4 linked regions of the Homo sapiens genome follow. The protein of the gene in region 3 interacts with the protein of the main gene of each other region in a pairwise test. Each region holds a gene or a part of one and is shown on either strand. Other genes may lie near its edges.

Region 1 (3,500 bases), on a different chromosome or scaffold from region 3:
TCAAAGTGATACCAGTATATCACTTAGAATTTGTAACATGTAAACATACTGTTTTCAAGCAGTATAGGAGTTCATATCATGAAAAGCAAATCTGCTATTCACCTCAGACCCTCAGTTGTCTCACCAGATAGAAGTAACTATTACCAACTTTCTTGGGAATACTTCCAGAAAATTTCCACAAATCGGCACATTTGCATGTATATGTGTTCTCAGGCGAGACCCATCGCCCCCCACCTGCCTTTGTTCACTTACTCGCTGTGGGTGATTGTTCCATATCCACCATTCAGATTTATGTCTTCGTTTTTAAATAGCTGTGTAGTTTTCATTGTTATGACTGGACCACAGTCTATTTAAATAATCTGTCCTCTAAAACATTTAGATGGTTTTCTGTGTTTTGTTGTCCTAAAAACTGCCGTGATGGACAACAAACAAGAGTTTTTGGGAATTGTGATTTTATAAGACCAAGTTAACTAGACAGCCAGGAAGCAAAATTTGAAAACAATTTATTTAAAAATACTGGCTACGTAAGGTGGCTCATGCCTGTAATCCCAACACTTTGGGAGGCTGAGACAGGAGGATCACTTGAGCCCAGGAATTTAAGACCAGCCTGGGCAACATAGTGAGACCTCATCTCTACAAAAAAGAAAATACTGTTAGTTGAACAGTATTAAGGGGTTGGGAGGAAATCATCCATAATCTTACCTCCCCAACACAGTTATTTTTATTTTTGCATATTATTTTTTTTTTTTTGAGATGGTGTCACATTATGTTACCCAGACTGATCTTGAACTCCTGGGCTCAAGTTATCTTCCTGCCTCAGCCTCTGGAGTGCACACCACCAAGCCCAGCAATTTTTGCATATTACATTCAAGCCCATGTCCGCAAACATTTTTACATAGTGGCCATCTTAATGTAATTCTTTTTAGAGCTGTAACAACTCTTTCTCTCTGAATTGAAACAGAATGAAACACCAAGACACCACATTAACCCCCTCTAATTTCTTCCTCCTTCTTTCCCCACACTTGCACCCACTCAGCTACCAAGAACTTCCACTAAAGGAAAGCTGTTGGTGTGGGAATTTGACACAAACATCTTCCCATGTGTTTCTGTATTTGTAAATTCTATTCACTCCTAAACGGCTTTAAAGCAAGCCTTCAGTTTATTTTTATACCTGCCTCCACTTCACTGTGGGCACTTGTTTTTGAGCCTGCAACCTGTTGTAATTTAACAGACAACCAAAAGGCCTTGTAAGAAGGTTGTTCTGGAACAGCTTTTCTGGAGGAGGTCTGTCTACAGAGGGACTTGCAGAGGGGGGATTGTCAAGAAAGAAGCCTCCTTCTCTAACAAGGGGCAGTCTGAGAGAGATGACTTTTGTTTCGCGCCACCCAAATTCCATTTCTTTATCCTTTAGTTGTTAGGACCAGGTGTCATCAGGTACAGGCCTGCCAGAGAAGATCCTACCCAGCCTGCCTCCTCAACCACTTCTACCCATTCTGAAGGCACCAGGATTTCTTCAGTCCAACTTTGGGCAGGTCTCCCTGATGCAAAATTGGTTCACTAAAATTTTGTGAATTGCATTAAATTTGTAGCAGGGTTAGGGCTCTTACTTCTGTAGGGAAGATCTTGATTTAGTGAGAACGAAAACCTAGACTAAGGCTTAGCACTCCTGGATTCTCCTCTGACGGGTTTCTTTGTTAATTTGCCACACAATGCATATCAGGCTATTTCACCACTTCAAGCCTGTTTACATAACTATAAATGAAAAGGGTGTTTTCTTTCTTTCTTTATTTTTGAGACAGGGTCTCATTCTATCACCCAGGTTAAGTGCAGTGGCATGATGATGGCTCACTGCAGCCTCGACTTCCCAGCCTCTAGCCATCCCTCCTACCTCAGCCCCCTGAGTAGCTGGGACCACAGGTGTGCACCACTATGCCTGGCTAATTTTTTTGTAATTTTTTGTAGAGACAAGGGTCTCTCTATGTTGCCCAGGTTGTTCTCCAACTCCTGGACTCAAAGGATCCTCCCACCTCAGCCTCCCAAAATGCCAGGATTACAGGCATGAGCCACTGTTCCTGACCGAAAAGGGTGTTTTAAACTGATTTTTTTTTTCCCAGAGACAGGGTCTCACTCTGTCACCCAGGCTGGAGTGCAGTGGCACGATCATAGTCCACTGTAACCTTGAACTCCTGGGCTCAAACAGTCCTTCTGCCTCAGCCTTTCGTGTAGCTAGGATTACAGGCATGTACCACCACACTCAGCTAATTAAAAAAAAAATGTTTTTGTACAGACAAAGTCTTACTATGTTGCCCAAGCTGGTCTCAAACTCCTGGCCTCAAGCGATCCTCTCAGTTCAGCCTCCAAAAGCTCTGGGGTTATAGGCGTGAGCCACTGCACCTGGCCTTAAACTGACCTTTAACATCTCTTGCAATTCTAACGATTTGGTTTCACAAAGTCGAAAAATATTTTTGTGGATTTCCATTTTTTGAGGGCTTTCCATTCTGTGACCAGTGTCCTAATTTGGCCCACTCTTCTGCTTATCACTCCTCCTTTCAAGCAGTAGGGCTTGGTTTACCAGCCCCTTGGGCCAAGCTCTTCCCTAGGTTCTACCGCCCATAGCTAGCCCTCTGTTTACAGTCCCTCTTATACCTGCAGCTCAGCTTTTACCAAAACCTGGATTCTTCTCAGGCGCTTCAGCTTTTCTCCAAATGTCTGGTCTTCTGCCCACCGTTTTCCCAAGGTTTTTCCAGCATATTCTGAGTGTCTGGCTCACAGAACTTGGATGGTCCATCATTCATCACTGGCCAGGCCTTCAGGTTGAGGGAAATAGCCTCCAAAAAGCCCCATTGCATCCAGAGCCTGTGTCCCAAATTAGCACCTCTCTGGATAGCCAGGGAAGAGGGAAAACATTCTGACATAAGTATGGATTTGCTAGACTAGCTGCATTTACAGAGCATCTTTCTAGATGGAACATTTCTATTAGATGCTATGGAACATTACAAAGGAAATAGAAGGCACCGTAAAGCCTAAAAGAGAGAGAGCTCATGGCATATATTCCACACAACAGCCTTGAACATAGCCTAGAATTAAATTCCATTTATTTGTTCCATTCCATCTTATCCTTCACAGTGGAGAAAGAACAGTCATTTCGTACCCTGTGGTTCTGTGTGGTCATTTCTTTTTAAGGTCTAGATTAGGATTGTTAACAGTCCTCTGTGTTTGTGCAGTGCCTTATAATTTATAGAATACATTCACAAACATGATTCCATTTGAGTTAGATCGAATGGATGTTATCTCCGTTTTACAGAAGAGAACATAGGAAACAGGTCACAGTCACACAAACAAAGGGACAGACTAAGGACATAAATCTAGGTGTTCTGTTATGTTTCCTAGAGTGATGGAATTTCCTCTACACATCACATCATTGGCACGTGAAATTTTACTTTATGGGGCTGGCTTCCTTGCATAAATGTAAGATTTAAGGAAAGAACAGGACATTTATG
Region 2 (3,500 bases), on a different chromosome or scaffold from region 3:
GAGACCATCACCTTCCCGCTTCCCCCAGCCTCAGGGCTGCTTCCTGCGGTGACACCAACCCCCATTATTATCTTGTGCAATCCTCCCTGTAGCCTTGGAGGTGGACCCATTACTGTCCCATTTTACAGGGACAGAAACTGAGGCTCCTAGGGCTGAAGATACCAGTCCAAGACATAGCTACAGGTAGGCCACATGAGGATTTGAACCCAGGCCTGTTTGACTGCAGAGACCAAGTTTTATGTTATTTCTGGTTATTTTCTTAGGATACTTTCCTAAAGGTAGAATTGCTGGGTCAGGCTCTTTAAAAAGATTTGAGGTACATATATCTATCTGTGCCTGAGAAAGGTTATCCAGTGTATCCTCCTCTGAACAGTGTACAAGAGCATCTATTTCTCCCCACCATCACCAGCCAATCTTTTCATATTTGAGAATCTGGTAGGCCAGAAAGAATATCTGCTTTTCATTTGTTTCTTTATTAGTCACATGGAACAACATTTGATATGTTTACCAGCCATTTGCATTTCTTCTTTTGTGAATTAACTGTATTATCAATATTATTTTTACAGACAAGGACTTGCTCTGTTGCCCAGGCTGGAGTGCAGTGGTGCAATCATAGCTCACTGCAGCCTTGAACTCCTGGGATCAAGTGATCCTCCTGCCTCGGCCTCCCAAAGTGTTGGGATTACAGGTGTGAGCCACCATGTCTGGCTGTACTGTATTACTTTTTATTCATTTTTTCCTTGTCCATTGTAAGAGATCTGGGCCAGGCACAGTGGCTCACGCCTGTAATCCCAGCACTTTGGGAGGCCGAGGAGGGCGGATCACGAGGTCAGGAGACCGAGACCATCCTGGCTAACACAGTGAAACCCTGTCTCTACTAGAAATACAAAAGAATTAGCCGAGTGTGGTGGCGGGCACCTGTAGTCCCTGCTACTTGGGAGGCTGAGGCAGGAGAATGGCATGAACCTGGGAGGTGGAGCTTGCAGTGAGCTGAGGTCGCGCCACTGCACTCCAGCCTGGGCGACAGAGCGAGACTTCATCTCAAACAAAAAAAAAGAAAAAAAGAAAAAAAACAAGAGATCTGAATTTTTTTTTGTATATGTGAGTTTTAAAAATAAAATTTATTTATATTACAAATACTTTCTCTGATTTGTCTTTAAGCTTTTGTTTTTGATTGTGGTGATGTTTTTTGATATTAAAGGGACGAGTCTAAAAACCATTCAGAGAAAATGCTCATATTATAATACTAATTGAAAACAAAAACAAAAGCGACTCAGTGTACAAAATGATAACTGTTAGGATATTGGTCACACAACTGAAAACAAGAATAGAAATCACAACCGGCTCTAATACCAGAATCGGCCAGCAGAGGGCGCTCTGAAGGCACCGCTGCGTTCACGCTGTTACTGGTTAGCAGGAGTATTTCCCAGTCCTCCAAGGGGAGGCTCAGCCTTCCTCTTCTCCAATTCACATCCCATCAATTGCCCCATCCCACCCCTGCCACCTCCCAGATGCCCCTCTGGCTCGTCTCTGTCATTGCACACCACGGCCTTCCACGGAAAAGCCAGCCACCATCCTGGGCCTCTGTAACATTCCTGCCCACTTTGGTATTGTGAGCTCCCCCATCCCACCTCACCAGACGGGCCCACCACACCTTGTGCCCCTGCTGTAGACCTTTCCTTAGTCCATCCTTCTGCCCTGGCCTGCACCACGCAATCGATGCCCCAGGCACAGTGAGTGACTCCTGTTTCCTGTTCATTTACATATGAGGTTCCCTCTGCCATCCAGCACCCACCTCCGGCCTGGCTAACTCCAGTCCCCCTTCAGGTCATAGCTGAGGCAGCACCGCTCCTGTGAAGTCATTTTAGACCCCTCTCGGGTTCCTCCTCTGGGGTCTCAGGCCTATTTATGCCCTCATCAATGCACCCATCCTACTGCCTGGCTATGCACCCGTCCCTGTCTGTGAGGACAGGAACTGGGTCCCATTCATTCTTGTATCCCCAGGTCTGGGCTCAGTGCCCAGCACATAGTAGGTACTCAGTAAATGTATCTGGAGTGTGGGCATGAAATGGGTGGCTGGGCAAGAGAACAGGGCTTTTTGGTCCCTCTGGTTCCCAGGGACCCACTGGGGACAGGGTCTTTACAGGTTTTGCCGGTGATCATGTGGGGCACCTCAGCCTTCCTCAGTCTCCAGGAGCCCCAGGATGAAAGCCAGCTCTGCTTTCCTCCAGGGTCACCTTCCCCATCCCCCACAGGCCCAGGTGCTTGCGGGGCCCAGGCAGCAGGGCTTCATCCCTACCTTCTGTGGTTCATGAGCAGCTCCCGGTGGAGCTCCTGGTGACTCCGAGAGGCCTTCACGGGGTTCAGCAGCTTCTTGGGCTTGATGAGCTCCGGATTCCACTCTCTGTATTCTGGCCGGGCCATCAGGCCCCCAATGTCTGCCCGCTCCCTCTGGATCTCCGAGTACATGGCGGCTGTAGAGATGGGCAGAGGAGTAGCTCAGAGCTGAGCCTATAATCTCACCCTGCCCCATGGGACACAGTTGAAGGGCAAGGTTTTCATGTCAGATGGACCTTGGCCACCTGCTACTGCGCATACCTGGGCAAGCTACCTGACTTTCTGAGCCTTAGTTTCTTCACTTATAAAATGGAAATCATAACGGAACGCATGCACAGGGCTGTCAGAATTGGAGATGATGTTTGCGATGTGTCTGGAGTATAGAAGTAAAATGATAACGGGTCACAAAATACGGGTTGACACATGCATATTTTTGGCCTGGCTTTGCAACAGTTTTCGCCCACTATAAAAGGAATTATGTTTGAGTTTCTGTTTTTCAATGAGCTTGTAACAGAAAAGGAAAATATATTTAAAAAGAGTAACATGTACTTGTTAAAAACAATTTGGATAAATGCAGTGATAAAAAGAAAGTATTACCCTTATTGTCTAACTCTATCCACAGTTCCACAACTGTTCAGCTTTTCATTTTCTTCACATCAAAGAGGAGAGCATGAAATTCAGAGACTGCTGTGTCCCTAATAGCAAAGGGATAGTTGTCAAATGTTTGGCTACTCAATGGCCCCACTTCTACCACAGCGGTTTGAAATCTGTCAGTTTACTTAAAATTCAGACACAAGGGCTCCCTCTTCTACAAACTGGCTCCTTATCCTTGAAATGCCCAAAAGCAAATACAGCAGAGAGAGAGAGAGAGAGAGAGAGAGAGAGAGAGAGAGAGAGAGAGAGAGAGAAAGAGACTGACTTAAAAAAAAAAAGGCCTCAAAGGTATAGACACTGCCTGGCCATTAGCTGCTTATAGGAATTTCAGTGAAAATTTAGACTTTAGCTCTGCTCTCTTCATGAGTCTAGCTTTGCAGAGGTTGAGCTCCTATTATATGCCAGGCCCTGACAGTTGGCAGTGTCTGGTCTGGTATGCAGTAGGCGATCAATACACATTTGTTGGTAATTGCCAATGCAACTTTTGAAGTTTTCTTTGGTCTTGGGGA
Region 3 (3,500 bases):
TGGCAGCCTCCTCTTGTGCCAGCAGCCTCCATGCTTCCTTTTCAGCTGCTTGCAGGTCACTCATGGGGGCTTCGTCTCCTGCTCCTGAGTCGGCCTCCCGCAGAGCAAGCAGAACCCTGTATGCCTCTTCACAGTGTTCACTGTGGGACACTGGTTCTGAGTGCTTCAGGACACTCAGCTCGGCTGGGTGCAATGGCCCTCACCTGTAGTCCCAGCACTTTGGGAGGCTGAGGCGGGAGGATTACCTGAGGTCAGGAGTTCGAGACCAGCCTGACCAACATGGTGAAACCCCGTCTCTACTAAAAAGACAAAGATTAGCAAGGTGTGGTGGTACGCACCTGTAGTTCCAGCTACTCAGGAGGCTGAGGCAGGAGAATCACTTGAACTGGGGAGGCGGAGGTTGCAGTGAGCCAAGATGGCACCACTGCACTCCAGCCTGGGTGACAGAGCAAGACTCTGTCTCAAAAAAAAAAAAAAAAAGAAAGAAAAAAGAAAAAAAAATCCACTTAGCTACATCTTGCTCTATAGGTGCCAGTCCCCACTTGCTCCTGAACCCCTCTTCTCCCCACTGCCCTCAGCTCTGGAAGCATGCAGACTCCCTTAGCAACCCTGAACTAAAATTGCCTTAAGTTAATTTCTGGGCCAGGCAAGGTGGCTCACACCTGTAATCCCAGCACTTTAGGAGGCCCAGTAGGGGGGATCATGAGGTCAGGAGTTCGAGACTAGCCTGGCCAACATGGTGAAACCCATCTCTACTAAAAATACAAAAATTAGCTGGCTATGGTGGCATACACCTGTAATCCCAGCTACTCAGGAGGCTGAGACATGAGTATCATTTGAACCCAGGAGGCAGAGGTTGCAGTGAGCTGAGATCTCACCACTGCACTCCAGCCTGGGCAACACAGCGAGATTCTGTCTCAAAAAAAAAAATTAATTTCTGAAGTGGGGAAGGTGCTCTCCAGTGAGGGTTCTGTGGATTGGGGCCATCCTCAGAAAGCCCACTCCCTCCCCAGCTGGTGACATCACTGGCAGGGTGCACTGACCTGTACTGCAAGGCCAGATGCAATGCTGTGGCCTCAGCCTCCCGCTGGCCTAGCTGCATGCTGAGGCCTTCACAGCGGCCCTTGTATCCCTGTAGCACAGCTGATAGCAGACGATTAAAGCATTTGAGCTTCTCAATGCTCCTGTTCCCGAAGGTGGGGAAGAGGGAAAGTCAGAGGCCTTCTAAGGCAGTCAGGCCTCAATTTCCACCCTTTCCCTCCCTCCTGTTGCAGCTTCAGACTCCTGGCTTTATAACTCAGTTGGAGGAGGTGCCTGTGCCCTTATGAGCTCAGCATTTGAGTCTCTTACCCCCGGAGTTGCTCCATCTGGGCTTCCATGATGTGCATCTCAGGACTGAGGGGCTGGTTGGGAAGAGACCCAAGGATCTGGGTGCTGGAATGGCTGCGGAGGCGCCGAAGCAGGGGGTGAGCCAGGGAGAAGGAGTCCTGCCAAGAAGAAGTGATATAACTGACCCCAATTGTCACCAAGAGCCTGGGATTGTAGGCATTTTGCAACCCCAAAGCTGTTGGATCCCATGACAAAGATTTGAGTCTCATTCCCCTGAAGGCTAAGGACATCAAGACCATGGGATTGAACTTCTCGCACTCACCTGAGTCTCCCAGGGTTCCCTGTCTGCCTCAGAGCTGCTAGAACCACTGCCTGAGCCACCTGCTTGGTTGTGGGAAAGATGTGGGCAGGGCTCCAGCCTCAAGAGGGAATCCTGCAGCTCTTGAACCTGGGAAAGATGAGGGGGACGTCAGGCCTAGGGGCTCAAACCAACCACCAGCCCTCTCTCCCCAAGGCCTGTTCTTGGGGAAGTGGCAAGAACCCTAGCTGGAAGGCAAGAGGCTTGGATACTTAGCCTGCCAAAAATCTCACTATCTGACCTTGGGAATGTTTCTCAGCTGCTGAGGATTTTATTTTTCCCAGCAGAAAAATGGGCCCCACTCTGGGGAAAAATGAATCCCTGGACTGGGCTCCAAAGTTTTTCTACCAGCCTAAGATGAGGGCTTCCCTCTCAATATCTCATTCAGCCACATGGCTTTTTTATTTTTATTTTTGAGATGGAGTCTTGCTCTGTTACCTAGGCTGGAGTGCAGTGGCACAGTCTCAGCTCACTGCAACCTCTGCCTCCCGGATTCAAGTGATTCTCCTGCTTCAGCCTCCCGAGTAGCTGGGATTACAGGCATCTGCCACCATGCCTGACAAATATTTGTATTTTCAGTAGAGATGGGGTTTCACCATGTTGACCAGGCTGGTCTTGAACTCCTGACCTCAAGTGATCTTCCTGACTCAGCCTCCCAAAGTGCTGGGATTACAGGCATGAGACAATGCACCCAGCAGCCACATGGCTTTAAATGCCACCTGTGTGCTAAGGATGCTCAAGTTTCTCCCTTCTGCCCTGCTGTCTCCTCTGAGCCCTGGACTCAGACATATAGCTGCTCCCTTGAGGACCCCACGTGGATGTCTCATGGACACTTGAGCTTATCAAGGGCTAAAGAGATCTGGTCACCCCCAGCCAAACCTGCCTACCCTGTAGCTCCTCCATCTCTCCCTTCTAGTCCAGCAGGTCCCAAAGCCTGAAGTTGTCCTTGACTTCTCTCTAGCCTTCACGCTCACACGTCAGTTCCATCTGCCACATCACCCAGAATCCGTCCGCATCTCTCCACTTCTACAACCTCCACCATCGTGCATGTCTGGACCAATGAAGTCGCCTCCTGGCTCTCCAGGAGTCCACCCTCACCTCCGCCACCAGAGGGCGCCTGTGAACACCTGCGTCGAGCATGCCCCTCCTCTGCTCAAAACCCTCCAGGGCTCTCACCTTAATCCAAGCAAAGCCCAAGCGTCTCCTTGCAGCCCACGAGGCCCTACGCGATCTGCATTTGTTCTCCCTCTGTTCTGTTCTGGCTCCCCACACTCTCCCTGTTGCCCCCTGTGTTCCAGCCACACTGGCCTCCTTCGGGTTTCTTGAACAGGCCAGTCATGCTGCCACTCCAGGGCCTACTCCCACCACCCTCAGTTTTCTTTCTTTTTCTTTCTTTCTTTCTTTCTTTTTTTTTTTTTTTTGAGAAAGAGTTTTCTTCTGTCGCCCAGGCTGGAGTGCAATGGCGGGATCTCGGCTCACTGCAAGCTCCGCCTCCCGGGTTCACGCCATTCTCCTGCCTCAGCCTCCGGAGTAGCTGGGACTACAGGCACCCGCCACCACGCCGGCTAATTTTTTGTATTTTTAGTAGAGACGGGTTTTCACCGTGTTAGCCAGGATGGTCTCGATCTCCTGACCTCGTGATCTGTGCCTCGGCCTCCCAAAGTGCTGGGATTACAGGCGTGAGCCACCGTGCCCAGCATTATTATTATTTTTTTTTTTTTTTGAGACAGAGTCTCACTCCGTCACCCAGGCTGGAGTGCAGTGGTGAAATCTCGGCTCACTGCAACCTCCACCTCCTGGGATCAGGCGATTC
Region 4 (3,500 bases), on a different chromosome or scaffold from region 3:
AAAAGATCCACCCTGGACCAAAACTATGCCTTCACCTGGTCTGAATTTCTTGATATTCAACTGTTTCCTCACTTTGAACAAAATTGAAAGACAAACCACCAACTGGGGAGAAATTATAATATATGACAGACAAGAGGTTAAGATACTTAATATATATATTTCTAAGCTACCAAAAAATCTACTTACCCAAAGACAGTGAAGCAATTCAGAGAAGATGTAAATGACAGAGAACATAAACGTATGTTATATATGCCTGATATTTTCTAGGCATCTTTCATGTGATACCCTCTTTAGTCTTCATACAGATTCTATGAGTAGGTACTGCCATTATCAGAGTTGGTGTGAGCATAGGGAGATCAAGGAATTTACTCAAGGTCATCAGTAAGTGAACACTCAGGCGTTAGAATAGCACCACTTAACCAATGCACTAAATAATCTTTAGCAAAAGTATAAAAATATAGTCACAAAAGACTTCTGTATTAAACAAGGAAATGCAAATTAAACTGCTGAGAATTTTCTTGCCCATAAAGTTAGCAGGAATTTTTTAAAAACAATACTTTTTCAAATGGGTAAGGATTCTGGGAACTCTCAAAACATACTGGTAATTCCATCTCATGCCAGTCAGAATGGTGACTATTAAAATGTCAAGAAACAACAGATGCTGATGGTGGTTGTGAAGAAATAGGAATGCTTTTACACTGTTGGTGGGAATGTGAATTAGTTCAACCATTGTGGAAGACAGTGTGGCAATTCCTCAAAGATTTAGAACTGGAAACACCATTTGAGCCAGCGATCCCATTACTGGGTATATACCCAAAGGAATATAAATCATTCTATTATAAAGACACATGCATGTCAATGTTCACTGCAGCCCTATTCACAATAGCAAAGACACGGAACCAACCCAAATGCCCATCAATGTTAGACTGTACTATACAGCCATAAAGAGGAATGAGATCATGTTCTTTGCAGGGACATGGATGAAGCTGGAAGCCATTATCCTCAGCAAACTAATGCAGGAACAGAAAACCAAACACTGCATGTTCTCACTTATAAGTGGGAGGTGAACAATGAGAACACCTGGACACAGGGAGGGGAATAATGCACAGTGGGGCCTGTCGGGGAAGTGCGGGGGAGGGGAGAGCATTAGGGAAAAGAGCTGATGCATGCTGAGCTTAAAACCTAGGTGATGGGATGATCTGTGCAGCAAACCACCATGGCACATGTTTACCTCTGTAACAAACCTGCGCATCTTGCACGTGTACCCCGGAACTTAAAAACATAAAATAAGATAAAATAATAAAATCAGTATTATTGTTCAGGGTCTTGAGACCTCTCTCAGCTTCTGCTGAACTAAGCAAGTACATTAAATTTTTTTTCTAGATTAAAAAAAAGTCTAATTTAAAACTCCTGTGGTGTCTTTGTTTTTGCAACTTAATGATTTTGCAAACAAAGTCTATTCATTATTTTAAAAAATTGGTAATTGATAGAATCTTTCTGGAAGTCAGTTTAGTAATATGTATCAAAAGCTTTTCAAGTGTGCATTTGTTTTGACATATGTGCATTTATTCTAAAGATATAATGCAAAAGTGTATGAAACTCATTGCTCAAAATATTTTCATCACCACCTTGTTTTTGCAGAAATTCAGAAATAAGTTAAATGCACAATAATGAGGTCCTGGCTTCTACATAAGTCACAGAGTTTAGAAGGCTATCTAATGGCATGAAAAGCATATATACTCTGTTAGGCATAAAAAGTAGTTATGGAGAAAGAGAATGTGCAGCATTCTGAAACAGAAACTTGAGTAATACACATCAAAGTGTTAATTATAGTTTTCTTTGAGTTGTGGAATTATACATGGTTTAAATTGCTTCCTTTTGCTTTTCTGTATTTTCCAAAATTTTTATAATGTCCACACACATTTCATAATTTAAAAACCCCCATAAAACAATAAATACTATTCGTTTAAAGGACTAACTCCTTAGCAACTTTTAAAAGTCTATGCATGGCAATCAAGTTAACATTTTATGCTACCTGGGGAAAGCACATTAGCTAGTTTGCGTAGAGTTGAGCTGTACCCATCTGCTTAAGTTAGTACCCAATATAGTCTACCATGCAACAAGTGGATGAGATGGAATGGATGCATTTTGATGAACAAGGCAAGAATAGGTGAGAGATGCCTTCCTTCCTTACATGTTGGCCAAGCCTTACAAGGCACTTCAATGGAAGGAAATGGGTAGATAAGGGACTGTACCACGCCCTGGGACACTAGGGATCATTTGTATGTATCCTGCTTATCCTAGACAGGTCCTGTGCTCTGTATTGCTCTCCTACAGCCATTAAAAAGCTATTGGGGGAAATCATCTCATCACAATAAGAAGAGTCAAGTACAATTCAATCATATAGAAAATGGTTTTGGAAGATGTCCAGGGACAGTCATTCCTTCTCAAGATTGAACAACCATAAAGTCATAGATAGCAAATTATAAATCAGGTAAGGGCCCAAGCTCATGTGAAGGCGCAAGTCCATAATGTGCTAATAAGAGAAAAAGAAAGGGTACAGGAGACATAAAGATTCTCTATTGAGGTGTGGTAAAGGAGGGAAGGGGGCCTTCACCTGGCCTTCCTGCCCACCTCTCTTGGCTCAGCCAGCCTTGGATGAGTTGTCTCCACTGACATAGAAGGTCTCCTGGTCACCAGGGAGCAAACATTAGGAAAACTACAACAGAAAGTCAACGAAGAGACTGCTATTCCTAAGAATGTCTCCAAAAAGGTTAAAAGTGTATACACTACTGAAGTTATACAAAAATATAGAAGTGGGCACAAATAGAGAATCAAAATAACCTATATATCCCATAGCTTGATTCTGTACTATGAGTTCCTAGAAAGAGAACTATGGTAAATGAGAAAGAAAAATCAGACAATTCCACTGACCTTCCTGTCTTATTGTAATAAAAGATAATGTAATAAACTTTGGTAAATTGCATTCATCAAGTTGCTAAAAATAAGTCCTGCTTCAATTTGCATGGAGGTGAAGAATTCAAAAGAAAATTGACAACCAACTACCAAAAATCTGCTTCTGCTTTCTAATTTTCTTTTCAGGCATGCATATAATCTGTACTGAAAACCAGATCCAATAAGGAAGGAAGGGGGTATTGCTTAAGCCTTTTTTCATTGAGCAATAAAGTTTTGTGTAAGAGAAAACAAAGGAACAAAGAGATGATGGTAGCTCAGTGGTCCTCGGTCTGCAAGAGGTGACAGAATCTTCTGGAGAGCTTCAAAGATTACAGATGCCTGGGCACCTAGAGTTTCTGATTCGGTAGGCCTAGGATGATCTCCAGGTGATTATAATGCATACTCAAATTTGTGACCCATTCCATAGATACCTACCATGTCAGCTTTTTTTTTTTTTTTTTTTTTTTTTGAGGTGGTCTTGCTCTGTTGCCCAGGCTGGAGTGCAGTGGTACTATCTCGGCTCACTGTAACCTCTGCCTCCCGGG

Evidence for each region. The genes of interacting proteins can lie anywhere in the genome.
Region 1: the proteins of USHBP1 (region 3) and TRIM54 interact in binary tests that used the Homo sapiens proteins (3 or more experiments, as listed by UniProt).
Region 2: the proteins of USHBP1 (region 3) and FAM107A interact in binary tests that used the Homo sapiens proteins (3 or more experiments, as listed by UniProt).
Region 4: the proteins of USHBP1 (region 3) and STX11 interact in binary tests that used the Homo sapiens proteins (3 or more experiments, as listed by UniProt).

Annotation. Positions count from the first base shown.
Region 1 is NC_000002.12:27,285,429-27,288,928, forward strand, and holds part of TRIM54 (tripartite motif-containing protein 54), read left to right. Parts: intron 1-3,500. UniProt on the Homo sapiens protein: May bind and stabilize microtubules during myotubes formation.
Region 2 is NC_000003.12:58,567,392-58,570,891, forward strand, and holds part of FAM107A (actin-associated protein FAM107A), read right to left. Parts: exon of another isoform or gene 2,935-3,500; intron 2,475-2,934; coding exon of another isoform or gene 2,470-2,474; coding exon 2,300-2,469; intron 1-2,299. UniProt on the Homo sapiens protein: Stress-inducible actin-binding protein that plays a role in synaptic and cognitive functions by modulating actin filamentous (F-actin) dynamics. Mediates polymerization of globular actin to F-actin. Also binds to, stabilizes and bundles F-actin.
Region 3 is NC_000019.10:17,258,246-17,261,745, forward strand, and holds part of USHBP1 (harmonin-binding protein USHBP1), read right to left. Parts: intron 1,778-3,500; coding exon 1,652-1,777; intron 1,488-1,651; coding exon 1,351-1,487; intron 1,185-1,350; coding exon 1,044-1,184; intron 457-1,043; coding exon of another isoform or gene 351-456; exon of another isoform or gene 339-350; intron 228-338; exon of another isoform or gene 141-227; coding exon 1-140.
Region 4 is NC_000006.12:144,181,517-144,185,016, reverse strand, and holds part of STX11 (syntaxin-11), read right to left. Parts: intron 1-3,500. UniProt on the Homo sapiens protein: SNARE that acts to regulate protein transport between late endosomes and the trans-Golgi network.